Linked DNA regions of Homo sapiens: all the other regions are linked to region 1. The links come from fine-mapping of genetic effects on gene expression. A gene starts in region 1. Each other region holds a variant in brackets. All regions are shown on one strand. Distances are from middle to middle. Region 1 holds the start of STEAP2 (STEAP2 metalloreductase). Region 2 overlaps STEAP2 (STEAP2 metalloreductase). Region 3 overlaps CFAP69 (cilia and flagella associated protein 69). Region 4 overlaps STEAP2-AS1 (STEAP2 antisense RNA 1).

What was found. PIP is the estimated chance that this variant, and not a neighbour inherited with it, causes the effect.
Region 2: its variant is fine-mapped to the expression of STEAP2 in tibial nerve (GTEx, PIP 0.98).
Region 3: its variant is fine-mapped to the expression of STEAP2 in skeletal muscle (GTEx, PIP 0.98).
Region 4: its variant is fine-mapped to the expression of STEAP2 in skin (TwinsUK, PIP 0.95).

The regions. Positions count from the first base shown.
Region 1 is chr7:90,206,848-90,214,872 of GRCh38, forward strand. STEAP2 (STEAP2 metalloreductase) reads left to right here and starts at 4,893. Exons shown (of 6, transcript NM_001244944.2): 1 at 4,893-5,198. STEAP2-AS1 (STEAP2 antisense RNA 1) reads right to left here and starts at 4,788. Exons shown (of 3, transcript NR_110029.2): 1 at 4,453-4,788; 2 at 3,004-3,091. RefSeq lists a silencer at 4,996-5,055.
Region 2 is chr7:90,234,148-90,242,172 of GRCh38, forward strand. It overlaps STEAP2 (STEAP2 metalloreductase), which reads left to right. Exons shown (of 6, transcript NM_001244944.2): 6 at 1-3,536. LOC107986819 (a long non-coding RNA gene) reads right to left here. Exons shown (of 2, transcript XR_007060423.1): 2 at 3,440-8,025. Among named protein-coding and RNA genes, the nearest start is that of CFAP69, 7.0 kb to the right of the region's middle. RefSeq lists a silencer at 413-618. The variant T/TCTG (reference allele first, on the strand shown) is at 3,985.
Region 3 is chr7:90,255,188-90,263,212 of GRCh38, forward strand. CFAP69 (cilia and flagella associated protein 69) reads left to right here. Exons shown (of 23, transcript NM_001039706.3): 2 at 236-295; 3 at 2,911-2,976; 4 at 6,760-6,869. Among named protein-coding and RNA genes, the nearest start is that of CFAP69, 14 kb to the left of the region's middle. The variant A/G (reference allele first, on the strand shown) is at 5,084.
Region 4 is chr7:90,131,304-90,139,328 of GRCh38, forward strand. All of the region lies in intron 2 of STEAP2-AS1 (STEAP2 antisense RNA 1), which reads right to left. Among named protein-coding and RNA genes, the nearest start is that of STEAP1, 19 kb to the right of the region's middle. The variant CAG/C (reference allele first, on the strand shown) is at 3,613.

The DNA of each region.
Region 1 (8,025 bases):
GGGACTCTGAAATTGCGTGGTTGTACTCAGTTATAAGGTGGTCATCCATGAGATCCAGAATCAAATTTGATGAAATGGTTAAGATTATAATGTTTTATAATTTGTTTATTTGAAAATATACATTTTAAATGTTTGCTAGAGAGCTCTAATATCCTCAAGAATACCTACAATGTAAACACTGTTCTATGCATAGACTAAATCCTTAGCAATAGACAGAAGGAACTGAGTGCTCTTTGAGTGAGGGAATGGGCTTGACCAGTGTTTGAAGATTTAAAAATGAATATGAAGACATGTTGTGACACTAGGGTATGATTATATTTTTATATTTAAGTAGAATCTGATTATCATCAGAAAAACTCTAATTTTAAAATCCATAGCTGGCAATATCCATGAATTCAGCCCAGGTCATCAAATGCTGAAAGCACATGGGTCAGATTGACTGTCTCCATTTTTTCTTGCTTACTTCAAAGCTATGAAGAAATCCAAAGCCCTTGCTGATACTCTTCCATGATATATTCCTTTTAAATGCTTGAAAAGTTTTCCCTTCCTACAGGAATCCCCCAAACACAGCTGTCCTTACACTGAGCCCCTATTCAAATTTTGGTTCCTCTTTCTAACATTGGTCGTCAGTCAATTTTGCTGGTCTATACCAACTGCAGATCTAGAGCCAATGCTTATAGAACTTTTCTGAGAATTCTTTTAATTTCAGATAATTTTTTAAAATTACCACAAAATTAGTTTAGAAGAATTCGCAGAGAGGTACATTGGGAGGGAAATAGCTTTGAGGCCCTTTATGGATTTATGACCAAAGCTATCCAGTCAAATTCCTCCAGGTATTTTTGCTATTTCCTATGGGTATACTGAAATTACACACATTTTAAAGCTTCCTTAATCAACTTAAACAAATACAAATAATAAAATTCAGTGTCAATGAGATACTGAATCTAAAAGATAAAAGTACATCCATATTTTTATAATGATTTTTCAATTGTTATGGAAAGAAATATGAGACTATGTAAACAGAAAAAATAAAATTTCTTTTAATTAAAAAACCCACATTAAAAAATATATCCCAAGAAAATATTCCCATCACTTATTACTCCAAAGAGTAATTTGTTCAAGGAGGTTAAAGCAGTGTTACTTATAATAGTTAAAGAATCAGAAAATGTACTTTCCTAAAATTTAGGGTTAAGAAAACTATTCTAGGCCAAACACAGTGGCTCACACATGTAATCCCAGCACACTGTGAGAGGGATGGGTGATGTGGGAAGATCACTTGAGCCTAGGCATTTAAGACCAGCCTGGGCAACCTAGGGAGATCCCCTCTCTACAAGTAATAAATAATTAGCTGGGTGTGGTGGCGTGTGCCTGCCTGTAGTCCAGCTTCTGGGAGGCTGAGGCAGGAGACTCACTTGAGCTCAGGAGGTTGAGGCTGCAGTGAGCCTTGACCATGCCACTGCACTCTAGCCTGGATTACAGATTCAGACCCTGAAAAAAAAGAGAAAGGAAGGAAGGAAGGAAGGAAGGAAGGGAGGGAGGGAGGGAGGGAGGGAGGGAGGGAGGGAGGGAAGGAAGGAAGGAAGGAAGGAAGGAAGGAAGGAAGGAAGGAAGGAAGGAAGGAAGGAAGGAAGGAAAAACTAGTCTATACCAATATATAAACTATATAGCCATTAAGAATTATAAGACTTTAGAACATGTTGATCTCTGGAAATATGTTTATGAAATAATGTTAATTATAAATATGTGTTTTGTACAGATGTACATTCAAGCATTTTAATAGATTTATAAATCCTTGTGTATCATTTTGTGTTCAAACACAGCGTATTTCTTTTTTTAATCATACTTAAACAATTTATTTTTTATTTCAATAGTTTCTGAGGAACAGGTGGCTTTTTGTGACATGAACAAATTCTTTTGCAGTAATTTCTGAGATTTTGGTGTACCCATCACCAGAGCAGTGTACACTGTACTCAATACGTAGTATTTTACCCCTCACCCCACTTCCCCCTGGAGCCCCCAGACTCCACTATATCATTCTGATGCCTTTGTGTCCTCATAGCTTAGCTCCAGCTTATGAATGAGAACATATGTTTGGTTTTCCACTCTGAGTTATTTCACTTAGAATAATCATCTCTAATTCCATCCAGGTTGCTGAGAATGCCATTATTTTGTTCCTTTTTATGGCTGAGTAGTATTCTGTGGTATATATATACTATATTTTCTTTATCCACTCGTTGGTTGATGGACATTTAGGCTGGTTCCATATTTTTTGCAATTGTGAATTGCGCTGGTATAAACATGTGCAAACACAGTCTACTTCAGATTATATTTACATGTATAAATCTATTGATGTATATTAATGTACATTGACAAATAAATGTAAGGTGATGTTAACAGAATTTCATGTTTATTGAATTCTTTGGTTTTAAAACAAAGCAGCATTTCACAAAAATTATTCTATTTTATTATAAGCACTGCTTACAAACAAATTTGTTCAAAACAAATTTGGGGGTTTGGGGAATAGGTTAGGTAAAATGTTTTTACCATAGGAATTTTCAGAGCCTTTAATTTATTAACATACATTGTGGATCTCTAAAATGAAGAGATTTCTCTTATTGTTTATCTCAAAATCTACTATTTACATCACGACTTACATTTATTTTGTGTAAATAAATCTGCATAAATCTTATTTGCACTTGTTACTAATTTATCGTTTTCACCAAACTGTAACTTCTATCAGGACAGGTAAATATATCTGTCTTCTTCACCACTGTTCCTAGAGTGCCAGCCAGGGCATATAGAAGTGGCTCAATATTTTTGAAGTGAATGACTTGCTAGAGCAGCATTTAGGCAAACTAGTGCCTAAAGTCACACATTTTGGGAACTACCACTCTAAAGTTATTTAATTGTATAATAACTTCAAAGGAAAAAAATGTGTTAATGCCCCTAGGCCACTAGAGATCCATTTAATAATTATTGCTTCGCTTCAGTTGAGTCACTTACTACTTTAGGGAACAGAAGAGATTTCTCAGAGAGCACCTCATGACCTGGAAAAGTCTTGCAAAATCATTTTCATACTCTGCATCTCCAGCTGAAAAACAATGATAAAATTAGTTACCATGGAAGTTAAAGGAATCATGCTTTGCATTAACACCAACAGTCTTCTGGAACACATTTGGTAACATTAGATTTCCCATCAAAGATATTTGTTTATTTTAATAGTTCAAGCATGAAAAAGAGATATCCCTTTTGGAAGCTGCAAATTGTTGACTCACTGATTCTCATTTAGGAAAAGGGATTTCACATTACTTTATCTATTTTCTCAATAGTCAAAGCCCATGTTAAGAGAGCTTTTAAACATATTTAAAATATATGGCTTACCTACATGTTTTACATGATAATTTATGGTTATAGAAGTTAGAAAGTGCAATTTCTTTTAATATCCCCGTGGGGAAGTTATATAATTCTATAGTTTTTTAAAATATATGGAAAAGCAATATACTTTCCGTTAACTGCTAAGATTCATGAATTTTCTCCACAAGTTCTCCAGAGGAACTACTAGAAAAAACTCCACGAATCTCATTATTTGACAGTTTTGTTGAAGTGAAATTATTAAAATTGATATTAGATTTAATGACTTGTTTCCAGTAACCAAAATGGAAAGTATTCTACCAGCTGTCGATGGTTCCACACCCTGACACATCGTTAAAACCTTAGCTTCTGCCTAAACTTTAAACCTTAATAATATTTGGCGGTAGGGGAGGGGTTACATTTCAAGTCAAACAAAGGATGTATTTCCAAAGCAGCATTTACAAAGGTTAATCTGTGTATGGACTACAAAGGGGAAAGTGCAGTGCCCCAGTGATCGATCTAAGACCCCCCTCTCGTTGTTGTTGTTGTTGGGTTTTTTTGGTCTGGTTAATAAACCACCTAGAGGGATAATTTTTAAACTTAATTTGTTGAAATGGTACTTTACTAATGTATGAAAAAAATTTCCCCAAATTTGAGAATTTTTGGTAAGTTGATTTTATATTTGGGAATAAAGATCTCTTGCTTCTTCTACTGACACCTTCTACACAAAAGATAAAAGGTACTTTTACTTGGTAATCCGCAGGGAGAAAATTTACAGAAACCCAGAGCCAAAGGTGCTCTCAGGGGATCCCCTGAAACATTCAAAGCCATTGCGGCCCCAGAAGGTAAATGGCTTTCGCAGGAACACAGGTCTCCTGACTCACGGCCTAACCTTCCTTTCCCCCACACCAAAGCTCGCGCGGCACCAGCTAGAGTGAAGGTCAAAGTCAACAGAATAATCTCTGCAGTCCAGGGTCTGTGAGGGTCCTCCTATCCGAGGGAGTTTTCATGAAAGGGCATTTCCGAACATTTTATTCCAAGGACACAGTCTAGTCAAAAGACGTTTGGGATAGGGTAAACATGAGGCAAAAGAACACTTACAAAAGAAAAAAGCGCAGTTTCTTGGAGGCTTGTCAGAAGCTAAGACTGGGGAGATGAGAACCAGGGCCCTTGGCGAGAGTTGGGGTGGGAATCGCGTAAGAAAAGCAATTTCTAGAGCGGAAAGGTGACCCCACATTACAAAAAGAAATGGAGTAGAAAAATAGGCTTGACTATTCTAAAGCTGCTTCAGAAAGAATCTCCGGAAGACCACGGAGGAACCCCGCAGGGGAGCCAGGCGGATACTCAGCCGCTCGCGGTAGAAGGGCGCGCAAAGCTGCGGAGCCGCGTGTGTGGAGCTCCCCAGTGCACTCACTGCTGGCTCCCCCTCGGTGCTCTGGGCCCTTCCCAGCTCCCTCCACACAGCCCGGCTCCCTTCACACACCCCCGCCCCCTCCGAGCTCCCCGACTCCTCCCCGCGCTCCACGGCTCTTCCCGACTCCAGTCAGCGTTCCTCGGGCCCTCGGCGCCACGAGCTGTCCGGGCACGCAGCCCCTAGCGGCGCGTCGCTGCCAAGCCGGCCTCCGCGCGCCTCCCTCCTTCCTTCTCCCCTGGCTGTTCGCGATCCAGCTTGGGTAGGCGGGGAAGCAGCTGGAGTGCGACCGCCGCGGCAGCCACCCTGCAACCGCCAGTCGGAGGTGCAGTCCGTAGGCCCTGGCCCCCGGGTGGGCCCTTGGGGAGTCGGCGCCGCTCCCGGGGAGCTGCAAGGCTCGCCCCTGCCCGGCGTGGAGGGCGCGGGGGGCGCGGAGGTGAGCGGGTCGGGGAGGAGCGCGAAAGAAGGTAGCGGCGGCGGAGTTGAGGGTCAAGATGCAGTCTGCGCCACGCGCTGCATCCATCCTCCCCGATTCTGCGCCCTCACCGGGCGTCCGCCCTGAGCTGCGGGGTCCCTCATCTCCTGGCACCTTAAGGTGGAAAGTGAGAAGGGTGGAGAAGGGTGTCTGTTCCACTGATTCCCCCTCCTCCTCCTCTTGGTTCCTAGAGCTAAGGGCAAGTCCTGAGGTTGGGCCCAGGAGAAAGAAGGCAAGGAGACATTGTCCCAGGTAGGATGTGTCCCAGCAGGAAAGGACAGGCAGGTTACTTTCGCCCCCTTGATAGTCTCCCTGCTACTTTGGGTTGATGCAGGGCATTTCATGGAAGATCATGCAGTGCTGCTTTGCGAACAGGTATTTCTAGCAGTCATTTGGTTTATTTCCCAGTAATGTAATCGTGGTGTTTAGGCCATTTCTGTTAGAAAGTAATTGGCCTCTTCTTTGACTGTCCTAAATTATCTTTGAACCCTGTGTTCAGCCTCAGCCAAAACTTGTTGAAAATTATGCCCTAAAAATCTTGCTCTTAAAATAGAGCAGAGAGATAAAGAGCATTTTTGTTGGAAGATTTCCATTTATTATCTCTCCCACCCCGTGGAGAAGGATTGGTGTCAGTTTTTACTCCTCGGGCAGTTAGTTTTTTAGATGGAAAGACAGTCCAGGCCATAGTTAATTATCGCTCATCAGTATAGGAGAAAAAGAATTCAGACTCCTGCCCCACCCCCACCCCCACCCCCAACCTCCTGACTTAGATTCTGGTCCTTTTAACAGCCCCGCTGCTTGGAACCCTTTTTGTTTTCTAAACCACCTCCCCATCCTTCCTTTTCTCCACTTTATTATTTCTTCATTTTATTGATCTGTTTATTTTTTCTTTCTTTAACCCTATAATTTTTTTACTCCGATTCTCTCTTGGTTGCTTCAAAGCTTAGAGGCTATTTAATGGAAAAGCAAAACAAAACAAAACAAAACACCCGTCCTAAATAATTTGCAGGATGTTTAGAAACATAAAGAGTAACTATGTGTGCTGCCATTGGGATGGCTGCACTCTCTGCCTCTTAGCTAGTCACTCTGTCAGGGTATGGGGAAATGAGACAATATTGAGAATGACAACTTGAGCAAATTGTGCAGTAAGGAAATGAAAAGCTTTATCCAAGTCACTTTTTATTGTACTGGTGCTATGGAAAATGTGGTGAATGAACATAGTTGTATTTTAGTACTGAAAAAACAGGACAGGTGAAGACAAATTTTTAAAGAAAGGATTGTAAATGAGTTAGAAAAGTGAGAAAGAAGATACACCAAAAATGTGAAAGAGTAAGACTGCAGGCGTGATAAAGGACATAGGACATCAGGAGATGTATTTATCCCTGCTGGGCCAGAAACCAGGACATTGAGGTAACTGAGACATTAACATAACAATAACATTGATAAATCACCTACCCCTTAAGGGCCCACATGTGTTTTCAGCAAAAAGAGAAATCTGATCTAGAGAATTATTACATGTCTTTTTGTCCTGAATTTTTTTGATGTATTCCATAACAAAGAATTTTTATTGCATCCTTAGTTACACTGCCAGCCAATGTGGAGGCAGTGATCACGGACAAGACAAACATGGTTCTTCCCTCGTGCAGTTTATTGTCCAATGGGGGAAATAGTAAACAGTAAAGAAACAATTATATAAAATATTACAAAATAAATTTAACAAGGGCTGAGTGAATTATTCTGCTATAGAGATGGAACAGTATATGGAAAGCTCCCAAGGTACATAAAGTGGTTGTTGTTTTCTCTTTCTAGAAGAGAATGCTGTGGGTGGACAATATACAGATAAGGTTAGAGAGGGGAAGCGGGGACTAACTCATTCAGGACCTTTTACGTGATAGTCAGGAAGATGGCTGTAGTTCTAAGTACAAGGAGCACCGATTTTAAGGAGAGACATTTTATGACGATTTACATTTTAAGATGATTTTAGCTGCTGTGGAGATGTTTGGAAAGGGTCAAAAGAGAAAGTAGGCTGACCCATTAGGAAATGTTTGCAGAGTTCAGGTGAGATGATAGACACCTGGACTAGCCTGGTATTGGTGGAGAGGGATTTATGAAATATGTTGGAGAACAGGAATTGGTGCAGGATTTTATGTCAAAAGTGAGGGTCAGCAAGGACTTAAGAATGACTCCCAATTTTCTGATTGGAGCAACTGGTGGATAATGGTGGCATTTACACATTTCCAGGCGAATGGGACCAGCTCTGGGTGGAAAAAGTTCAGGTTTGAACCTGTGAAGTTTGAGATGTCACAGAAAGAGGTCATAACCATATCCCCTTGGGAAGCAAAAAGGGAGGCTCTCCAGGACATAAGTGGATAGACTGGTCTTTGATAGGTAAAATTGGTGATTGTTAATTTAAGGTGAAACTAATGAGCTCAGTTTTCTGGTTTTTCTCCAGCAACCTTCACCAACGTGGATACAGATACAGAGAAAATGGATAGCTGGGTCCAGGACTAGAGTTTTGCCAAGCAGATATGATGGAGAGTAAGAGAGCTGAGGATCTTTTTAAGGGAGTGACTACAAATCTAGCCTCGGTTTAAAGAGAAACCAGAGCAGGCTGAAGGAGAGTGCAGGATATTAAGCAATTAGAGAGGTAGAGGTCAACGGATCAGATTTCTTTTGCTGTTTAGAATTATCAGTGTGAATATTTAAACTAAGATTATTGGAAGTCCTGGAGACAGTGCTTGGAGATTTCAGGCAGTGAGTGACTGAGGTGGGGTAGAGGCAAAAATTC
Region 2 (8,025 bases), 27 kb after region 1:
TATTAGGGTAAGTGGCTAATTATAAATCTACTCTAGAGACATATAATCATACAGATTATTCATAAAATTTTTCAGTGCTGTCCTTCCACATTTAATTGCATTTTGCTCAAACTGTAGAATGCCCTACATTCCCCCCACCCCAATTTGCTATTTCCTTATTAAAATAGAAAATTATAGGCAAGATACAATTATATGCGTTCCTCTTCCTGAAATTATAACATTTCTAAACTTACCCACGTAGGTACTACTGAATCCAACTGCCAACAATAAAAAGACTTTTATTTAGTAGAGGCTACCTTTCCCACCAGTGACTCTTTTTCTACAACTGCCTTGTCAGTTTGGTAATTCACTTATGATTTTCTAATGTTCTCTTGGTGAATTTTATTATCTTGTACCCTCTTTTTTTTTTTTTTTTTTTTTAAAGACAGAGTCTTGCTCTGTCACCCAGGCTGGAGTGCAGTGGCACGATCTCGGCTCACTGCAAGCTCTGCCTCCCGGGTTCACGCCATTCTCCTGCCTCAGCCTCCCGAGTAGCTGGGACTACAGGTGCCCGCCACCATGCCCGGCTGATTTCTTTTTGTATTTTTAGTAGAGACGGAGTTTCACCGTGTTAGCCAGGATGGTCTCGATCTCCTGACCTCGTGATCCGCCCGCCTTGGCCTCCAAAGTGCTGGGATTACAGGTGTGAGCTACCGCGCCCGGCCTATTATCTTGTACTTTCTAACTGAGCCCTCTATTTTCTTTATTTTAATAATATTTCTCCCCACTTGAGAATCACTTGTTAGTTCTTGGTAGGAATTCAGTTGGGCAATGATAACTTTTATGGGCAAAAACATTCTATTATAGTGAACTAATGAAAATAACAGCGTATTTTCAATATTTTCTTATTCCTTAAATTCCACTCTTTTAACACTATGCTTAACCACTTAATGTGATGAAATATTCCTAAAAGTTAAATGACTATTAAAGCATATATTGTTGCATGTATATATTAAGTAGCCGATACTCTAAATAAAAATACCACTGTTACAGATAAATGGGGCCTTTAAAAATATGAAAAACAAACTTGTGAAAATGTATAAAAGATGCATCTGTTGTTTCAAATGGCACTATCTTCTTTTCAGTACTACAAAAACAGAATAATTTTGAAGTTTTAGAATAAATGTAATATATTTACTATAATTCTAAATGTTTAAATGCTTTTCTAAAAATGCAAAACTATGATGTTTAGTTGCTTTATTTTACCTCTATGTGATTATTTTTCTTAATTGTTATTTTTTATAATCATTATTTTTCTGAACCATTCTTCTGGCCTCAGAAGTAGGACTGAATTCTACTATTGCTAGGTGTGAGAAAGTGGTGGTGAGAACCTTAGAGCAGTGGAGATTTGCTACCTGGTCTGTGTTTTGAGAAGTGCCCCTTAGAAAGTTAAAAGAATGTAGAAAAGATACTCAGTCTTAATCCTATGCAAAAAAAAAAATCAAGTAATTGTTTTCCTATGAGGAAAATAACCATGAGCTGTATCATGCTACTTAGCTTTTATGTAAATATTTCTTATGTCTCCTCTATTAAGAGTATTTAAAATCATATTTAAATATGAATCTATTCATGCTAACATTATTTTTCAAAACATACATGGAAATTTAGCCCAGATTGTCTACATATAAGGTTTTTATTTGAATTGTAAAATATTTAAAAGTATGAATAAAATATATTTATAGGTATTTATCAGAGATGATTATTTTGTGCTACATACAGGTTGGCTAATGAGCTCTAGTGTTAAACTACCTGATTAATTTCTTATAAAGCAGCATAACCTTGGCTTGATTAAGGAATTCTACTTTCAAAAATTAATCTGATAATAGTAACAAGGTATATTATACTTTCATTACAATCAAATTATAGAAATTACTTGTGTAAAAGGGCTTCAAGAATATATCCAATTTTTAAATATTTTAATATATCTCCTATCTGATAACTTAATTCTTCTAAATTACCACTTGCCATTAAGCTATTTCATAATAAATTCTGTACAGTTTCCCCCCAAAAAAGAGATTTATTTATGAAATATTTAAAGTTTCTAATGTGGTATTTTAAATAAAGTATCATAAATGTAATAAGTAAATATTTATTTAGGAATACTGTGAACACTGAACTAATTATTCCTGTGTCAGTCTATGAAATCCCTGTTTTGAAATACGTAAACAGCCTAAAATGTGTTGAAATTATTTTGTAAATCCATGACTTAAAACAAGATACATACATAGTATAACACACCTCACAGTGTTAAGATTTATATTGTGAAATGAGACACCCTACCTTCAATTGTTCATCAGTGGGTAAAACAAATTCTGATGTACATTCAGGACAAATGATTAGCCCTAAATGAAACTGTAATAATTTCAGTGGAAACTCAATCTGTTTTTACCTTTAAACAGTGAATTTTACATGAATGAATGGGTTCTTCACTTTTTTTTTAGTATGAGAAAATTATACAGTGCTTAATTTTCAGAGATTCTTTCCATATGTTACTAAAAAATGTTTTGTTCAGCCTAACATACTGAGTTTTTTTTAACTTTCTAAATTATTGAATTTCCATCATGCATTCATCCAAAATTAAGGCAGACTGTTTGGATTCTTCCAGTGGCCAGATGAGCTAAATTAAATCACAAAAGCAGATGCTTTTGTATGATCTCCAAATTGCCAACTTTAAGGAAATATTCTCTTGAAATTGTCTTTAAAGATCTTTTGCAGCTTTGCAGATACCCAGACTGAGCTGGAACTGGAATTTGTCTTCCTATTGACTCTACTTCTTTAAAAGCGGCTGCCCATTACATTCCTCAGCTGTCCTTGCAGTTAGGTGTACATGTGACTGAGTGTTGGCCAGTGAGATGAAGTCTCCTCAAAGGAAGGCAGCATGTGTCCTTTTTCATCCCTTCATCTTGCTGCTGGGATTGTGGATATAACAGGAGCCCTGGCAGCTGTCTCCAGAGGATCAAAGCCACACCCAAAGAGTAAGGCAGATTAGAGACCAGAAAGACCTTGACTACTTCCCTACTTCCACTGCTTTTTCCTGCATTTAAGCCATTGTAAATCTGGGTGTGTTACATGAAGTGAAAATTAATTCTTTCTGCCCTTCAGTTCTTTATCCTGATACCATTTAACACTGTCTGAATTAACTAGACTGCAATAATTCTTTCTTTTGAAAGCTTTTAAAGGATAATGTGCAATTCACATTAAAATTGATTTTCCATTGTCAATTAGTTATACTCATTTTCCTGCCTTGATCTTTCATTAGATATTTTGTATCTGCTTGGAATATATTATCTTCTTTTTAACTGTGTAATTGGTAATTACTAAAACTCTGTAATCTCCAAAATATTGCTATCAAATTACACACCATGTTTTCTATCATTCTCATAGATCTGCCTTATAAACATTTAAATAAAAAGTACTATTTAATGATTTAACTTCTGTTTTGAAATGTTGTATACACGTGGATTTTTTTCTCATTAAATAATAATTCTAGTATTTGATGGAGGCCTTCTAATACTTTTCTGAGTTATTTCTTTTCAGAAGCATCCAGAAAGCAATACATGTGATAGTTATGGAGGGGTTTTGTTTGTTTTTACTAAAATAGTCATTTAGAAAAACCTCCATTTACATTTATTTTATTACATTATTTCATTTTACTAGCATTCATTAAGCATCTTTAAATCAGAACACACACAATATTCAAGCTATTCTGTAAACTCCCCGTAGCAGAAATTTTGTCTTATTTACTACTAAATCCCCAGTATCTAGTATAATGTGATCTATGATGGATACTAAAGAGATATTATAATAAATAATTACCCATTTTTACAGAAAATTATGTTTTTTATCATCCCGCATCCATGCAGCCATGCCTACATCCTCTTGCCTCTTCCTCATGCCTTGCCTCCTGGCCAGTGGCCTAGCGCTACCCTGTTGTCCTAAAGAGTT[T/TCTG]CTGCTGCTGCTGCCACTACCACCACCACCACACTGCTATATGTTGAGGAGTCCTGTACACTGTGCCACTGACAAGGAGTAACTGACCTTTGTGCCTGTGCACCAGATCTGTCTGTGGAGGTTCTGGCTTCCCCAGCTGCTGCCTGGAAATGCTTAGGTGCTAATATCCTGAGAGGAGGATTGTCAGGTAAAATACAGGACTCTCAGTTAAATTTGAATTGCAGACAAACAATAAATTACTTTTTATTATAAGCATGGGCTTTTTAAAATTTTTCTAAATCTGGCAACCCTACTTAAGGAGTGAACTTTGATCAAGGAGGTACAGCACAAAATGAAGCTAGTAGATAAATTCTCCCTTCCTTTCCCCCAGATAGGCTGTTCTAAAGTGCAATAATTCATAAGACCTTCATGAAAATATCCTCAAAGACCGAGCAATTAACTGCACTTGTTGCAAAGCTATGACAAGCTCACTAACACCTGTGTTTGTGTTCCCTTCTCCTACTGCCTCACTTCCATGTTTTTCCTCACTTCTGTTTCTCAGAGATAGTACTCCCCATAGAGTGGCAGCAGGTGAGTGTTGGTGTTGTTTGTTTATGGCAGGCTTGGGGAACCTAGACTAGTACAGTACTTTTGGTAGTGGATTCTTCTAATGGGAAGTGAAACAAGAGACAAATGATGACTTTGAGAAAGTCAGGCACGGGACCCTGCAGACTCAAAATCCAGATTTGTTGAGACCCCTGAGAGTAGAAAAACCCCTCAGGGGCAGATTCACATTGATCAAATGTACAGTCATACACTGTTAAATCAAAATAGTAACTCAGCACTACTGTGTGAAATATCAGTGTCCTGTAGGCGAGAATACCATTTGTGCCTTGATTAAACATACTTTATTCTTGAATCTGCTGTTTATAAGAATTGAAGTTATAATTCAAAAGATACTGGGATCTGTTATGGGCTGAACTGTGTTTCCTCAAAATTGATACATTGAAATCCTAACTCCCACACTACCTCAGAATGTATTTGGAGATAGGATCTTTAAAGAGGTAAAGTGAGGTCATACAGTTGGGCCCTAATCCAGTATGACTGGTGTCCTCATAAGAAGAGGAGATTAGGAATCAGGCATGCACAGAGGGAAGACCACGTGAAGTAAAAGGGAGAAGACGGCATGCCAAGGAGAGATGCCTCGAGATGAAACCAATCCTGCCAACACCTTAGTCTTCAACTTCTAGCCTCCAGAACTGTAACAAAATAAATTTCTGTTGTTAAAGCCACCCAGTCTGTGGTATTTGTTACAGCAGTCTTCAAAAACTAATACAAGGTTCATAGAATCAAAACAAGTCAATTTAGATATAGAACTCAAATAATTAATGTCATTGGAACAAACCTGTCTGATTAATCTTGCTCCACAACAAAGACAGTTCTATCCTGGGGTTATTGCACTATAACTACCCACCATTTAAACACAATAAATAGTTGTTCTAAAATCTCGGGAACATTTTTTTTTCATATAATTATTCCCATGTCATGGAACTGAAGCTTTGGGTAAAAGCGCTTTATAAATTCTTCTTTTAATTTTTTTTACTTTCAATTTGTTTACTTTTCCACTAAACACGAGTAGTTCCTGCAGCTTCCTACTTAAAAATCACTTGCAGTTTGGGTTATTGTTAGTATACTTTTCATTAGAATGGTTGTCTTCAGGGGTGACTATTCTTTTACTTTCGTTTTCTGTTCCACGTGCTTATTCTTCCCAAATGTACATTAATGATTCTGTTGGAAAGAGGTAATTACTTTTGTTTTGTTTTTAGGCTTTGTTTCTGTGCTGTCAACCTGAAAAAGTTTTTTAAAACAGTGAAGTATAGGCTGGGAGCGGTGGCTCACGCCTGTGATCCTAGCACTTTGGGAGGCCAAAGTGGGCAGATCGTTTGAACCCAGGAGTTCAAGACCAACCTGGGCAATATGGTGAAACCCCATCTCTACAAAAAACAACAAAAATTAGCCAGACACGGTGGCACACACTTGTAGTTCCAGCTGCTCGTGAGGCTAAGGTGGGAGGTGGGAGGATCACCTGAGCCCAGGGAGGTCAGGGCTGCAGTGAGCAGAGATCACGCCACTGCACCCCAGCCTGGGTGACAGAGTGAGACCCTGTCTCAAAAAAAAAAAAAATTAAGTATAATAAATTCTGGTTTTGTATGCATTTCTTCTCTTACAGAATTTCCCTAAAGCTAACCTACTAAAAACTATGACTAGATTTCATATGTGCTATAAACATTCTTTATTTAAAATAAATTACTCTAATTCAGAAAGGAATAACATTTGCTTGCACATTTAGAACATCTGGCATTAGAGACTATAAAATTCATATATAGTCTCAAATACTTATTAGACATATTCTTAATTCAAGAATATATAATTATTCATATGATTAGAAATAATTATAATTTTACTAAACATTGCTAATTAGGCAGAGTACAAACAAGAAAAAGTCAGAAGGAAAATAGAACCACAATTTGCAATATATTTATTTTAAAACATTTTTAGCTTTCTTTGTTACTTTTAAAAGTAAAACTTGTAAGTCAATATATTATTAAAACTACTAGTTAATCTTTAAGTCTACAGGTGCTACTAAGAAATTGCAATTTGTAACTTAACAGAGATATTAAATTCTGTAGAATTGTTACCACATTCAAGCATTTCTATTCTGTAGGTATAACTCATTTCCCATGTTTCTCTGCTATTTATCTTTTTGCTGAAATAATTTACTCCTTCAGTAGTCATTTCACCCTTTCACCCTTCTGTGTTTTTGTGTCATAACAGAAGAATCACTAAATAATGATTAAAATTAAGTCAACATACCAAATATAAAGTTAAAGCTTTTATGAAGCTTAATCTTTGTGCACTTACCAAGAAGAAAAGTAAACCCACTATTATTTGGGAACAAAGGACTTGGAAAATCCACGAATGGAATAATTAGTGAAAACCAGTTTTATGGATGCTGTTAAAACTACTCCAAAGCAATAATAATGACAACACACATAAACATACACACACACACACACACACTCACACACATGAGCAGTGCTTCTCAAATTTTGATGTGAGGCTGAGGATCTTGAGAGATCAGAATCTCAGAATGGAGATTCTGAGTCAGTAGGTCCACCAGGCGGCAAGAGAGTCTCCATTCCTAACAGAGTCCCTAGTAATGCCAGTGCAAGTAGCCCAAGGACCCCATTTTGAGTAGCAAGGACCTGGAGTATTTACCTTACTTTGGATAACTTACAAAATGCTTTAATTTGGCTTCAAATCAAAATAAAAAGTAATTTATAATCCTTGAAATCTTTTAATGAACATTTTTTGAGTGACTAGTATGATATGGACCAGGAAGTCCCAAAGTATGTTCTCCAGACCAATAGCATCAACATTGTTTGGGAACTGGTTAAAAGCACATATCCTTGGGCCTCACCCAGACTTACTGAAGCAGAGACTCTGCAGGTAGGGCTTGAGATTCTGTTTTAACTATTTCTCCAGACGATTCTGATACACATTAGGTTTTGAAAACTACTGCTCTAGACAGTATGCTGAGGGTCTGGGGTGCATATCAAAGTGACTCTCAAGAATCTCAGTACAGTAGGAAGGGGTCCAATTGCTGAACCAGTTGATACCATTAAGTATGTGATGAGTACAAAAACGGAATGACAGACAAGGTTGCACCCAACACAGCAAAGGATGTAAAGGTTTCCTAGAAAATGTCATGTTAACTGAATTTCATAGGGATTAGCCATCTGAAGACGGTGGCATGTACAACATAATGCAAATGTTATGCGGGAGGAAACCTGCTGGCACCTTTCGAAAACTGCAGTAATTCACCCAAGATGGCTGGCTGTGGGGTGTTTGAAGACTCCTCTACCCTTGTCCTTCTCACCTGTCCATGAGTAAAACAAATACCGTTAGAGCTAGAAAAAAAAAATTACAAAGCTGAGTCTATTAACTTGCCAAGCAAGAGAACTTACTCCATGAAGAATTTCACTGAGGAGGGAAAGTCAG
Region 3 (8,025 bases), 48 kb after region 1:
TGAAATTTTAAAACATTAAGATTATACAAAATACTAGAATTCAGGAGGGGTTTTTTACTCCAAAATCTATTTATTCCTGTGAGTTTTCATCTACTGTTCATTCTCCCCTTACTATCGTAGTGTCATAAAACATTTTTTAAGTTACCAAGGGAAAGTATCATATAAATTAGTGTGTTAGATATGACTTATTGATATAGAAGATGATCTAGAATAGTAAGAGTTGTATGTTTTTTAGGATGTTTTCAAGCCTATGGACCTTAATCGTGTCATCAAACTCCTCGAAGAGACTGATAAAGTGAGTAAGCTTTGAGAGAAAATTACTCCGCTGCATTACTTACAAACTATTTCCCTGAAAGGTAACATATATTCCTTCAAATGTAAGTCTCATTTATCTCGTTTTGTTGAAAACATTTTAAATAGTACATATCTTATATTCAAGGACTATTTAAATTTAGTATGAATATATTTAATGAAGTGGGGAGACTGGAGGAAGAGAATAGATTTGCTTTTATGAGATAGACAAACCCATGGTGGCTGTAACAGAAGGAATCCTAAGAGTACAGAAAGGATCATCTAGCCTCTGTTAAGTGCTTGTTACCTAGTAGGATTGGAGGACAGAAATGGTAGAAAACAGGGTACCGTGGTGTACTAATTATGAAATCAGGATAGATACACACAAACATGTACACATAGATAATTTATTTTGAGAACAATCATATATAAGATGTAATGGAAATTAAGTTATTTTAGACACAAGACTCAAAATTGGGAAAGCAGGCATTGAGAGAAAAGACAACAAATGTATATGCACACATGCTCATATACCACCTGATGTTATCAAGAATCGACTGAATGCCTAAAAGCCAGCACACGCTAGGAACTTATGTGGTGATTTCCAAAAAGGAATACGTATTGTTAGTAAGTAGAAAATGAGTTGACCACAAATGCCCATCAATGATAGACTGGATAAAGAAAACGTGGACATATACACCATGGAATACTATGCAGCCATAAAAAAGGATGAGTTCCTGTCCTTTCCAGGGACATGGATGAAGCTGGAAACCATAATTCTCAGCAAACTAACACAGGAACAGAAATCCAAACACTGCATGTTCTCACTGATAAGTGGGAGGTGAACAATGAGAACACATGGACACAGGGAGGGGAACGTCACATACCAGGGCCTGTCAGGGGATGGGGGACTATGGGAAGGATAGCATTAGGAGAAATACCTAATGTAGATGATGGGTTGATGGGTGCAGCAAACCACATGGCACGTGTATACCTATGTAACAAACCTTCACATTCTGCATGTGTATCCCAGAACTTAAAGTATAAAAAAAAAAAAAAAATTTTTAAGTAAGTGGGTTGACCATAGTATAGCCTATCAAAAGAAAACAATGTCCTATGAATAGGAGGCACAAAAATTTGGTCACTGTTTTAACATTTTTTATTCTCTGCTTTTTTACATATAAAGGAGAAAAAGTGACTATTGGAATAATTTATCTTTTTCTGGCTATCATTGTTGTGAAAAGTTATTTTTTATTGTGACTATATCTACATTTCCTTAAAAAACCACAACTGCATAGAGTGCCTATTAGCTGTTTAATAAGGCTACAGAGAAAAAGTATAGACAATATCACAGCTTTTCAGGAACATTTAAGATTAAAAGGACAGACAGAATTCAGTCATGGAAACACATCACTGTGTAGAAGTTTTACTTGCTTATTTTCATTTTTAATTGACTTAAGATGTTTGGCTTGCACAGAACACTGAGCATATTTTAGAAGTTAAAAATACAATCTCTACAGTCAGCTTTCCAAATTTGTCTTCTAACACCACCACTTTTTAGCTGTGTATTTTGGACACGTTACTTTAAAATGTTTCAGCTTGTGTTTCCTATTCTGGAAAACAGAGATCATAGTAGTATCTTCCTAATAGGGTCATTTTGGAAATTAATGAAGTGATATGTATATATGGTACCCATGTGGTACATGACGTAGAAAAAATATTCAATGTACTTTAGCTGTTGTTAATATTATTTCTGGAAACAATTACTGCTTTTATATTAACCTGGTTTTGATTCCCAATTTCCTAATCAAATTTAAATAATAGTTTATTTTTGATACATAATGTCTGTAAATGTTTATGGGGTACTTGTGATATTTTGTTACATGCATAAAATGTGTAATGATCAAGTCAGAGTATTTAGGCTATCTACCACCTCTAGCATTTATCATTTCTATGTGTTGGGAGCATTTCAAATCCCCTCTTCTAGCTAGTTTGAAATATACAATACATTGTTGTTGACTTTAGTCACCCTACTTTGCTAACAAATATTCACTAACACAGTCTTCCTATCTTTTGTAATTATCATTCTAGTCTATATCTCCATGAGAACAACTTTTTTAGCTTCCACACATGAGTGAAAATGTGTGATATTTGTCTTTCTAAACATGGCTTATTTCACTTAATATCTTCTAGTTCCATCCATGCTGCTACAAATGACAGAATTTCATTCTTTTTTATGGCTTAATAGGATTCCATTGTATATATAGACCATATTTTCTTTATCCATTCATCCATTGATGGACACTTAAGTTGATTCTGTATCTTTGCTATTGTGAGTAGTGCTGCAATAAACATGGAACTGTAGGTATCTCATTGATACACTGATTTCCTTTCCTTTGGATAAATACCCAGTAGTGAGATTGCTAGATCATACAGTCGTTCTGATAGTTTATTTTTACCTTCACTGTTTCAGAAAACATTTTATAACGTTTACATTATAATATAGTAATTTAAGAATTACTTGATAATTTTAAAGTGTCTACTTTTATGTTGAAGAATTTTTTAAAATCTCAACAGATTTAAAAGCACAAAAGAACTAAAATAGGTGATCTGTTTTAGGATGGCTTGGAAGAAAAACAACTTAAATTTGTCAAGAAACTGGTACAGTGTTATCAGAATGGACTTGTATCCTTTACATATATATGTATGTTCATTTCATTTATTCTGAAATGAGAATTTCTTTTAGAAAATGTGTTAGTTTTCCATTGCTGTTGTAACAAATTACCATAAATTTGATGGCTTAAAACAACATAAAGTTATTATCATACAGTTTTGGAGGTTAGAAGTCCAAAATCAGCCTCAGTGGACTAAAGTCAAGATGTTGACAGGGCTGGTTTCTCCTGAAGACTCTAGAAAGGAATCATTTCCTTGCCTTCCCCAGCTTCTGGAGGCTTCCTACATTCCTTGCCTCATGCCCTCTTCCCCCCACTGGCATCACTCTCACCTCTGCTGCTGTCGTCACATCATCTTCTCTGTCTGACCCTCCCTTCCTCCCTCTTTCCTTTATAAGGATCCCTGTGATTACGGTGGGCCCACCTGGATAATCTAGTATAATTTTCTCATCTCAAAATTCCTAATCATATGTGAAAAGTCCCTTTGCTATGTAACATAGTTACAGGTTCCAGGAATTAGGACATAGATATCTTGGGGAAGGCCATTAATCTGTCTACCACAGAAATACTGGAGAGGCCATTATTCTGTCTACCACAGAAAATATCTAACATTTTATGTTCTTTATAAGACTGTATTTTCTATCAGATAATGTAAATAAAATTGAAGAAACAATATAACACAAGTAACTGTGGATAATGTCAGTTTTTGTCGATTCAGAAAGACAATGGATGTAGTTAGAGGGCCAAGTCAAAGTCATTATTTCTATTAATTTACATGGGCAGTTGTACCTTTGATAAGCTCTCCACCCTTGTAAAGTAATAGAAGCTCATGAGGTTGTTAGCAAGATTAGATGAGATCATGTACATCCAAGTGCTTGATAATCTGCAAAATATTATATAAATATATTATCCCTACTAAATATACGACCCTGACCAGAATACATGAAAACCAGTGTGTCTTAAAACTATCTGTACGTAAAAGCCAGGTGTGATGGCTTACACCTATAATCCCAGCACTTTGGGAGGCCAAGACAGGAGGATTGCTTGAGGCTAGGAGTTCAAGACCAGACTGGTCAACATACCAAGACCCTGCCTCTACAAAAAAACAAATAGCCAGGTGTGGTGGTGTGTGCCCATATTCCTAGCTACTGGGAAGGCTAAGACAGGAGGATTGCTGAAACCCAGGAATTCAAGGTTACAGTGATCAAAGATTTTGACACTATACTCCAGTGTGAACAACTGAGTGAGACCCTGTCTCAAAAACAAACAAACAAACACTACCTTTGGATAAGAACCAGTTTGTTTTGTTTTGTTTTGGGGTGTTTGTTTGTTTGTTTGTTTGTTTGTTTTTGACACAGAGTCTCCATCCAGCCTTAGTTGCCCAGACTGGAGTATAGCGGGGCAGTCATAGCTCACTGCAACTTCAAACTCCTGGGCTTAAGCGATCCTCTCACCTCAGCCTCCCAAGTAGCTGGGACTACAGGAATGCACCCACCACACCCAGTTAATTCTTTATTTTTTTGTGGAGTCTCATTATGTTGTCCAGGTTGGTCTCAAATTCCTCAGCTGAAACAATCCTCTCGCCTCGGCCTCCCAAAGTGCTGGGATTACAGGTGTGAGCCACCACAGCTGGCCATTTTTTTTTAACATTTACATATATATGCTATTGTAAAATACAATAAAAGTATCCCACAAATATTAGATTGTTATAAAAGTTTTTATATGTCCACTCTCACTTTATGTATTCATTTTGTCACAGACTAGTAAATATACTTCCAGAACTGACAGTGGTCCATAGACCACACTTTGAATAGTATTCATCTAAATCAAGCTTGTCCAACCCTCAACCTGTGGGCTGCATGCTGCCCAGGATGGCTTGGAATGCAGCCCAACACAAATTTGTAAACTCCTTACAACATTATGATTTTTTTGATAATTTTTTTTAGTTCATCAGCTATCATTAGTGTTTGAGTATTTTATGTGTGACCCAAGACAATTCTTCTTCTTCCAGTGTGGGCCAGGGAATCCAAAAGACTGAACACCCTGAAAATGATCTTGAACAGTTGTCTGACTTGGTCTAAAGAAGTTATCAAGCCCGTGCATTGTGGCTCATGCCTGTA[A/G]TCTCAGCACCCTAGGAGTCTGAGGCAGGAGGATCATTTGAGGCCAGGAGTTTGAAACCAGCCTGGGCAACATAGCAAGACCCCATCTCTAAAAAAAAAAATAGCCATGTATGGCGATGCACACCTGTAGTTTTATCTTCTCCAGAGGCTGAGGCTGAGGTGGAAGGGTCGTTTGAGCCCAGAAATTCGAGGCTGCAGTGAGCTATGTTTGTGCCACTGTACTCCAACCTGGGTATGGGTGACTGAGTGAGATCCTGTCTCTAAAAAAAAGAAAAAAAGAAAAGTTATCAAGCTCTAATATTAGCTCATTCCAGTTCAAAACCTCTTAAGACTTCCATTCAGGAAAATGTTTCTTATAATTTAATCTAAATCTTTTATTATGTTTTAGCCTTGGTTTTATTTGGACCTGTTCCATCTTAGGGCTTGTGTATATCAAGCCCTATTTACTGGTAGCTGAAAATGTCTACTAGCAGGGATTTCTTTTCCTATTTTAACCTGACATCTCAACACCTCCATTTTTTTTTTCTTCATGTTAAACCGTTGGTGGCAATTGGCTCTATTTCTAAATCCCTCTCATAGGCTGGCTATAGAAGTTGTAAAACTTAGCAAAGTTAGAGAAGTATCTTGGTCACTTCTCTAGGAAGTTAACAGAGCTTTCTATTTCCAGTGTACCCTGCTCTCCCATCTTTTCCTAAAAGGTCCTAGAAAAAGGCTAGGAGTAATAAGATTCAACCAAGAAGTGTAAGTCACATCTACCATAATTTCTTAGCTGTAAAACAAAATCAATGAAATGTGTTTATGTGCCAATAGGATTTTTTTTTTTTTTTGAGACAGAATCTCACTGTGTCACTCAGGCTGCAGTGCAATGGCATGATCTCAGCTCACTGCAATCTCCGCCTCCCGGCTTCAAGCGATTCTCCTGCCTCAGCCTCCTGAATAGCTGGGATTACAGGCACCACCACGCCCAGCGAATTTTGTATTTTTAGTAGAGACGGGGTTTTACCATGTTGGTCAGGCTGGTCTCGAACTCCTGACCTCGTGATCCACCTGCCTCGGACTCCCAAAGTGCTGGGATTACAGGCGTGAGCCAGCAGGATTTTTAAATAGATAAAATAAAAGATGCTTTTATCTGAATATCTAGAAAGTCCATATTTTGCTTTCATATTAGTTTCAGATAAAATCCTAACCAATTTAAGCCTTAAACACAGGAAAATGCATCTCAGTTTAATATTAATAAAATAGTGGAGTAAAGTAATGTTTAGGTTGCTTATTCTGAGACAGCATATGTTTGTGTGGGCAGGGGTAGGGGGTGAAGATGAAGGGTATAATTGAGCCTAATCAGTAAGTTAATGTTTTCAATGTGCTATTACTCATTGCCAGTGGGAAGTTATTGATCAACTGAATCTGTGTTGTAGCAGTTGGTAATCCAATTCTAAAGTTGTGAGAGGAAAAAAATTTTGAGTAGGCATTTACTGAGGCAAAAATGAAATGGTTTTTTTAAAAATATGGTTCTAAATTTCCTTTTTTAGACTTCAAAATAAGAATAATTAAAACAGTATCTACCACATTTGGCAAAATAGTTGGAATTCTATAGACTTTCTTCACAGAAATACTATAAAGAATATGTTAATAAAGATATTAATCTGAATTTTATTTCTTAACTAAAAATATTAAAGCCATTAAGGGATTTAGCACAGATATTTAAAATTCTGAATCTGTGTTCAGGAAAAATAAAAAACCAGCCTCGTTTTATAGAATCTGCATATGATATCATAAAACTGTGTGGGTAAGTTATCTTTCTTTAACTTTATTTTGTAGTAACATGGAGTATTTTATTATGTTTCTTATATCACAAACATACTATGCATTATAGTGTAGCAGATTGCTACAGAACTCAGAAAACTTCAGTTCATCACTTGATTCCAGCAGTTGGCATTTCAGGTAATCAGTTTGCTGTGGTCTGAGATTGCTAGCCACAAGAGATTAAATTCTAAGTATATTGAAATGCTTTCTTGTAATTAGTTACTCTGAAGTAAATGCTAAATATTAGATGTAACCAAGGAATTATAGTATTTTCAGAAAATCTTTGAGTGAACTTATGGATATGCTTATAATTTCAGTCTAGTTTTTTTCTCTGTCTTTAGAAAATTTGAGTCTCAAAGATATATTAGGTTATATATGTCATGTTTTATTTGATTTTTGAAATTTGAGTGAAGAATAAAAATCACCAATTACATTTGATATATATTTTAAAAATGTAAGTTAGAGATAAGAATTGTAAAATTAACATGTCTTATTCTTTCTACTGTTGGTTCTCTAACAAGTTCTGGGAACTGAGTATATGGTGCTTCCTTGGTGCCACATAGTGGCTAATCTAGGTATATATTAAAATATCCATTTTTAGTTGCTAAATGTAATGTAGTAGGGAGGAATAAACCTTTTGGACAATTTTACCTTCTGAACCTTTCTACCAATTTAACTTTTTAGATAGCAATTATTTATTTTAATATACAAATAATATATAAATAATAGAAAGGTTTAGTAGAATTATGCATACATGATAGGTTCTAACTCTCACTTTTAGATTTACTAGCAATATTTAATATGTAACCACTTAAATTTGTATTTTCTGATATCTGAATAAAATAACCAAAATAATATATTGAATGCCTATACCATGCCTTGCTTTTTAATAGACAGGTACAATGGAAAATAAATGGTTGCTCTGGTGTTTTCAAGGAACAAATTGGAAATTATTATTATATTGACATACGATTATATAATGTAAAACTTTTAAATCTCAAGGCTTTGCAAATCCTAGAATGCCAAGTTTATAAGAATTGCTTTCAACATCTATGCTCCTACAGAGCTCTGCACAAAGTTCATTGTCTATGAAAACTTGTGACTGAATGTTTAATTGTATAATATGATAAATCCTTTTT
Region 4 (8,025 bases), 76 kb before region 1:
GATGAGATTTTGGGTGGGGACAGAGCCAAACCAGATGAGAAGGGTACTGTAGGGCCTGGCTGTTTTGGCCCAATGCTGAACTGCTTCATCAGGCAATCTTTGCTCTGAAGCTGCTCACTGAGCAAGCCAAGCCCTGGTCAGCCGTCCTTTGCAACTGAAGGCTCTCCTGCTTTCTTCCTCTTTCATAGATGTCAACGGGCTGAAGGCTTTACCCACCCAATCCTGCTCCCCCTCCTCTAACAGCTATGACACCTTCCTAGTTTCACCCCTTCACCCATTCCAGTTTTACATAAGTTTTCCTCACTACACAGAGATGGTGCCACCAAGACCTTATTCATTTTACAACCTTACTGGGATCCCCTAATGAAATCCCTCTGAGACTATAGCACAGTAGACCCTGGCAGAAGACAGGACCCGGTACCTATAAGATGCCTTTCCTATCTCACGGATCCAGACCATTGTCAGATTTTAGAGTTCCTAGTATGGAGAAAAGTCCCTTGGGAACAGTAGAACCTGGACTGAACTCTTTTAAAATAAGTAGGAGGTAGGCGCCTGTGGTCCCAGCTACTCGGGAAGCTGAGGCAGAAGGATCGCTGGAGCCCAGGATGCAGAGAGACACGATGGCGCCACTGCACTGCAGCGTGGGCAACAGAGTAAGACTGTCTCAAGAGAAAAAAAAAAAAGTGACAGTGTGCAAAATGTTCATTTTATGTATACTTAGTGCCATGTGCTGACTATGAAATATGATAGCATTTGTCATGAAATTACAAAAAGTGTTAAGGTGCTAGTTTGCACGTTTTCATGGAAAATGGGAGAAAGCAAGAGAACTCAAGGACATGCACTACATTTGTTTTAGTTTTGTTTGAGTTGTGATTATCTCAGTGGCTCTTCTCTCCCTCACCCACCCACCTCTCCTATTTGTTCAATCTCTCTCCCTCGTCTGGTGCCTTAAAAGGGTCTCCATGCTTTGCATCCCTCCTCCACTCCACGATCAGGGACCCACCCGGCATCACACGTTCTGCTTCAGCAACAATGAACTGCTGGAAATTTCCAGCAACTCTTTTTCCTGCCAGTGCTCACACTGTACCCTTGCCTGTTAAGGTCTTACCTGTCTTCCTCGCACACCCCTGCCTCTCACCTGCTCAGAAGTCCCCTCCTGCCAGCAGCCAGTCCTGACCATCCCCTCTGTGATCTGCTAATGCCACTCCACCTGTCACATAGTTCGATCACTTAAAAATGATCTGTTTTCCTTTGAAGTCTTTCATTGAACTCTGAATTACTTAATAAAAAGGTTTGTATATTATTTATTCCTGTTTTCCACCCGACACAGTACCTGGAAGATAGTAGATGCTCAGCAAACATTGCACAAAAGAATAATGTGGAAAATAAATGGTTAAAACATAGAAAAATTTTAAAGATAGGGTATTTGGGTCACTTTTACTGTTTTCTGTCCCTACAATATGGCTGAATCATCCCCCATATGGCTCAACATTTTCTTAATTCTTTTAAAAGTACCCAACACTATATTGAGTGCTCTGGGGATCAAAATAATAGTATATATATTAAGGCTGGGTTTGAATCTCTGCTCTACCATTTACTAGCTGGGCAATTTATATAACATTTTAAAATTTCATCATCTGTAAAGTGGAAATATTAAAGGTATCTTCTTCAAAAGTGACATTTGGAAGAAAAAAATAAAGTAATACATATAAAGCATATGAGATTCAGTAAGCACTCGGTTAGTGGTGAGTTGTTTTTGTTGCTTTTGCTAAGACCCAGGAACCCATTGTTTGAAGATCAGCATAGAGCACTAACTTGTTGGATGGGATTTGTGTTCTCTACTCAATGATTTGTTTATTCTTTAGAGACTGTCTGTCCCCTCTAGAGTCTATTATTAATATTTTCTAATGCCAATTTATGGGAGTTTTACTATTGTGCTGTTTCTCTAATAATAGCTAATTTATATTTTTAATTTTTAAAAGCCATTATGCTGGAAACAGAGCATTCATACAAACAATACACGAATGAATGTAGGTTATACTGCAAAATAGCTGGTTACTATAATGTAGTTGTATTCCATGGCTTTAAGTTTAAAAATAACTTCGCATTTACTAGAGTGGACTTACCCTCCAGGCATAAAATTTTAAAACCCAACAACTCCAGGCCTCCAGAGTCTTTACTTCCCACTAACTTCTCACCAGTGAAGGCGAAGCTAATGAAAAAGGATAGATGACTGCTTCTCAATTGGAAATGGATCCAAATGCCATCAAGGGAATTGGTGTCGGTATACAGATTTTACCTACTGTCACAGCCTGGTTGGGTGGAGGATGGGGAAGGTGGTGGTATCGGTCTACTTTTAGAGTTTTAAATGTTTCTCTGAATTCCTGTAGCAGACAATTTTGAGAAAATTTTGCCTAGAGAAAGAGTCTGAAACCAAAAAGCTAAGCAGAGGCAAAGGTTTGCAGCTTGGATCTTTAACATTAATAAGTCTGTTGCTTTTTCCTACCTCCCACTCCTGCTACCTGAAGAAGGTGAGTAGGAGGGGAGGGATGGTGAAAGAGGAGGGATATGGAGGGAAAAGGACATAAGTGGTGGTTGGGTAGATGACAGATAGTGGTTGTCTGCCTGCCGCCCATCTAGGTATGCCCCCACGGGTGGCCTCTGCTTTTGCCCACAGGGGACTCATTCACGCACAAAGGAAGGTGACAGACAATTGGCCAGAACATAGAGCACTGAAATGAAACACAAAGGCCACTCTTGGGCCTCTGTGTTTCATCACAATTATATTAGTTTGCTAGGGCGCCATCACCAAGTACCACAGACAGGTGTCGGAGATCAAGGTATCTATCAGCAGGGTTAGTTTCTTCTGGGATCTTTCCTCTTGATTTGCAGATAAGCGTTTTCTCCCTGTGTCTTCACATGATGTTTCCTCTATGCCTGTTGTATCCTAACCTCCTTTTCATATAAATTCACAATTGAGCACATAACTCCTATTTAATACCATATGTTGGAATAAAAAGCCTTATAGCAATGCATAGGATAGAAATTCTTTTCTTTAAAACTTAGAGTATTTTGCAGTAATGAAAAATGGTCCTGACATACAGAATGCCATCTAGCTTACACCTGCATGGGGCATGCACGGCATGAGGCATGAAGAAGAAAGAGATGAGCAATCCTTACCTGAAAAGAGACCACCCTCTCCTTTAATGGGAGGAGAAATTAAAGAATAATTTAATGGGAGGGGAAATTAAAGAAAAATGCCCATAGTTTGCTGCAAACACTATTGCTCAATTTAATACTGTAATGGAATCTACAATGTGTGTACAATCATTGTTAACTATACCTTTATTATCTTTATAATGTTGAGGTAAAGAGCTTTCTGCTATTATGCATTAATAACTCCATCCCTAATGCCATCATGGTTCTAGTGTCCAGGGAAGGAGTCTGTATTAGTCTGTTTTCACACTGATATAAAGAATACCACCAGAGACTGGGTAATTTATAAAGAAAGGAGGTTTAATTGACTCACAGTTCTGCATGGCTGGGGGGGGCCTCAGGAAATTCACAATTATGGTGGAAGACAAGGCACATCTTACATAGCAGCAGGTGAGA[CAG/C]AGAGAGAGAGAGAGAGAGAGAGAACAAACCAGGAAGTGCCACACTTTAAAACCATCAGCTCTCATGAGAACTCACTCACTATCGTGAGAACAGCATGGGGGAAACCACCTCCATGATCCAATCACTTCCCACCAGGTTCCTCCCTTGACACCTGAGGATTACAATTTGAAATGAGATTTTGGTGGGGACACAGAGACAAACCATATTATTTCACCCCTGGCCCCTCCAAAATTTCATGTCCCTTTCAAGTTTCAAAACCAACCATTCCTTCCCAACAGTCTTAAAGTCTTAACTCATTCCAGTATCAACCTGAAAGTCCAAGTCCAGAGTCTCATCTAAGACAAGGCAAGTTCCTTCTACCTATGAGTCTGTAAAATAAAAAGCAAGTTAGTTACTTCCAAGATACAATAGGGGGCCAGGTGCAGTGGCTCACACCTGTAATCCCAGCACTTTGGGAGGCTAAGGCAGGTGGATCACCTGAGGTCAGGAGTTCAAGACTAGCCTACCCAACATGGTGAAACCCCATCTCTACTAAAGATACAAAAATTAGCTGGGTGTGGTGGCTGGCGCTTATAGTCCCAGCTACTTAGGAGGCTGAGGCAGGAGAACTGCTTGAATGTGGGAGTTAGAGGTTGCAGTGAACCGAGATCGCACCAGTGCACTCCAGCCTGGGTGACAGAGGGAGACTCCATCTCCAAAAGAAAAAAAAAAGATACAGTAGCAATACAGGCATTGGGTAAGTATTCCCATCCAAATAGGAGAAATTGGCCAAAACAAAGGGCCCACAGGCCACATGAAAATCTAAAACCCAGCCGGGCAGTCATTAAATCTTAAAGCTCCAAAATGATCTCCTTTGACTCCATGTCTCACACCCAGGGCATGCTGATGCAAGGCGTGGGTTCCCATGGCCTTGGGCAGCTCCACCCCTGTGGCTTAGCAGGGTACAGCCCCTCCAGCTGCTTTCATGGGATGGCAATGAATGTCTGTGGCTTTTTCAGGTGCAAGGTGCAAGCTGTTGGTGGATCTACCTTTCTGGGGTCTGGAGGATGGTAGCCCTTTTCTCACAGCTCCACAAGGCAGTACCTCAGTGGAGACTCTGTATGGGCACTCCAACCCCACATTTCCCTTCTGCACTGCCTAACAGAGGTTCTCAATAAGGGCTCCACCCCTCTTGCAGACTTCTGCCTGGACATCCAGGCTTTTCCACACATTCTCTGAAATCCAGATGGAGGTTCTGAAAGCTCAACTCTTGTATTCTGAATACTCACAGGCCAAACATCATGTGGAAGCTGCCAAGGTTTTGGGGCTTGCATTCTCTGAAGCAATGGTCTGAGCTGTACCTTGGCCCCTCTTAGCCACAGCTGGAGCTGGAGTGGCTGGGATGCAGGACACCATGTCCCAAGGCTGCACAGAGCAGCAGGGCCCAGGGCCCTGAGGACATTTTCCCTCTTAGGCCTTTGGGCCTGTGATGGGAGGGGCTACTTTGAAGATCTCTGAAAGGCCCTGGAGACATTTCCCCCATTGTCTTGGTGATTAACATTTGGCTCCTTGTTACTTATGCAAATTTCTGCAGCTGGCTTGAATTTCTTCCCAGAAAAATTTCTACCACATAGTCAGGCTGTACATTTTCCAAATCTTTATGCTCTGCTTCCCTTTTAAATATAAGTTCCAATTTCAAACCATCTCTTTGTGAGCGCATGTAACTGAACGCTTTCAGAATCAACCAGATTACCTCTTGAATGCTTTGCTGCTTAGAAATTTCTTCTGCCAGATACCCTAAATCATCTCTCTTAAGTTCAAAGTTCCACAGATCTCCGGAGCAGGTGAAAAATGCTGCCAGTCTCTTTGCTAAAGCATAGTAAGAGTGACCTTTACTCCAGCTCCCAATAGGTTCCTCATTTACATCTGAGACCATCTCAGCCTGGACTTCATTGTCTATATCACTATTAGCATTTTGGTCAAAACAATTCAACAAGTCTCTAGGAAGTTCCAAACTTTCATTTATCCTCTTGTCTTCATCTGAGCCTTCCAAACTGTTCCAACCTCTGCCTGTTATCCAGTTCCAAAGTTGCTTCCACATTCTCAAGTTATCTTTATAGCAGTACCACACTACCTTGGTACCAATTCTCTGTATTAGTCCGTTTTCACACTGCTATGAAGAATACCACCAGAGACTGAGTATTTATAAAGAAAGGAGGTTTAATTGACTCATAGTTCTGCATGGCTGGGGAGGCCTCAGGAAACTTACAATCATGGTAGAAGGTGAAGGGGAAGCAAGGCACATCTTACATGCGGCAGGCAACAGAGAGAGAGAGAGAGACTGCAAGAGAGAGAGAGAGAGAGAGACAGAAAGCAAGAGAGCGAGAGCGAGCATCAGGAAGTACCACACTTTAAAACCATCAGCTCTTGTGACAACTATCATGAGAATAGCATGGGGGAACCACCCCCAAGATCCAATCACCTCCCACCAGGTTCTTCCCTTGGCACCTGAGGATTACAATGCAAGATGAGATTTCAGTGGGGACACAAAGTCAAACCATATCAGAGTCTTCCTCTTAAAATTCATGGAAAGGTCATATCTATCTAATCTCTCTCTGATGCTTCTTTTGGCAGTATCACTAAAGACATTTCCATCCCAGAGAGTAGATGTGGAGGATGTCAGATTCAGAGAGAAAAAATTATTTGTCATTGGTTACAACCACAAAACCATTTACTATAGTTTTAATATTGTGAATATCTGTTCTGATCCCAACAGATCATCAGTCAAGTAGAGAAAAATAGAACAAACTATTTCTAGAGTGTCTAAAGGATTCATTCTATCATTTTAGTAGATGATATACATGACCATCAACATTCAGTCATTTCATGAATAAGACAAGACATTATAATTTACCTTAGAGTGAAGCTGTTCTCATAGAATTTACATTGTGCAATTTTGCTTTTTCACATGAATAAATTAGGGGCTCAGGAAGCAGAAGGACAAATAAGGCAGAGAACAAGCAGGAAAAATAATTGAGGTAGGACCAGTAATCCATGGAGGATCCCCAACTTCAGGTGAAAGCATAGAATATATCTGAATGTGAGAGTTGAGCCAAAGATAGACTCATTTATCCATGGACTAATGGATAGTCAAATACTAGTAAAAATAATAATAATAGCCATCATTTACAGGCTTACTCTTTGCTAGACTCTTTATATATTATATAATTTAATCTTTAGGACATCTTAGTAAAACTGTTCTGCAGATGAGAAAATTGGGTCTCAGAGATGTCAAGTGCCTTTCTTAAGGCCCTCCAACTAGACAGGGGCAAAGCTTTTAATTAGATTTGGGCCTGTCTAATCCATTGATACAATCAAACAAAACCACTGTGCCCTGGATGGAAGTCATTAATTTAAGGGCAAGTAGAACTGGACACCTAGAAACTAAGAGATCCAGGAGTTCTCATTGTATATTTGGGACTAGGTGGTAGAGGACATGAAGAACAAGGAATAGCTGGCTGGGAATGAAAGCACTGACCCTCCTGCAAGAGAAAAGTAAGACAGAAACCATGTAGTTGAAGAACCCAGATTCCAAAGGTTATCTCAAGCATTGTTTCAAAAATTGTTGACGAAGCAAATTACTCAGCTCTTCTCATCCAAAACCTTCTCGGCTTGGCGTAGACCTGGAATCCAGGGCAGGACTGAACCTCAGGGATGGGGACCAGTGTCCACCAGTGCACACGGTGGAGAGGGGAAGGGAAGAAAGCCAAAAGGCCATTAATTAAACCCAGGGACTCCTGGCTCCCAGCAGGATCCTATTCTTTCTCTTCCCACAGTAAGAAGCTAGTGGGGAGATACAGACACCAGGTGAATCCCTCAGCTGACTAGTCAGCTGTAGGATAACTGGGAAAGTGAGAGGATCCTGCGTCCTCTTGAGGAAGTGCAGCTTTCTGCTGTCCAGGCTCTGGAGTCCCTGCTAGATTTGCTCACACACAGGACTTGCACTGGGCAGAAGTCTGTGGCACATGCCTTCAAAGCATTCCATTAGCTGGAATTTAAAATTCTCTGACGGAAATCAGAATCCTGTCTGAAGGCAATTTTGCAACAGTGTGAGATGTGCATGAGGCTCCTGAAGGCCATGGAGCTGTTCCAGGCAATTCGATGAATGGAGTGTTCAGCCGGTCAGGGCAGGCACCCAATTTAAAACATGCAGGTGAATAACTGATGGGACCTCTTGCTCAAACATCTCGAATGCATTTTGCCAGGCTCTCCAAGTGTGTAAAAGTCTTGGAAAATAACATGAAATTGCCTTGACTGCACTCATAAAATGGCTGGATGTAAATGTCCTTTAAAAATAAAAATAAAAAAAACTAAAGAGCATTTTTAAGGCTTTTGCTTCACAATAGGATGAAAATGATTTGAGGTGGGAGC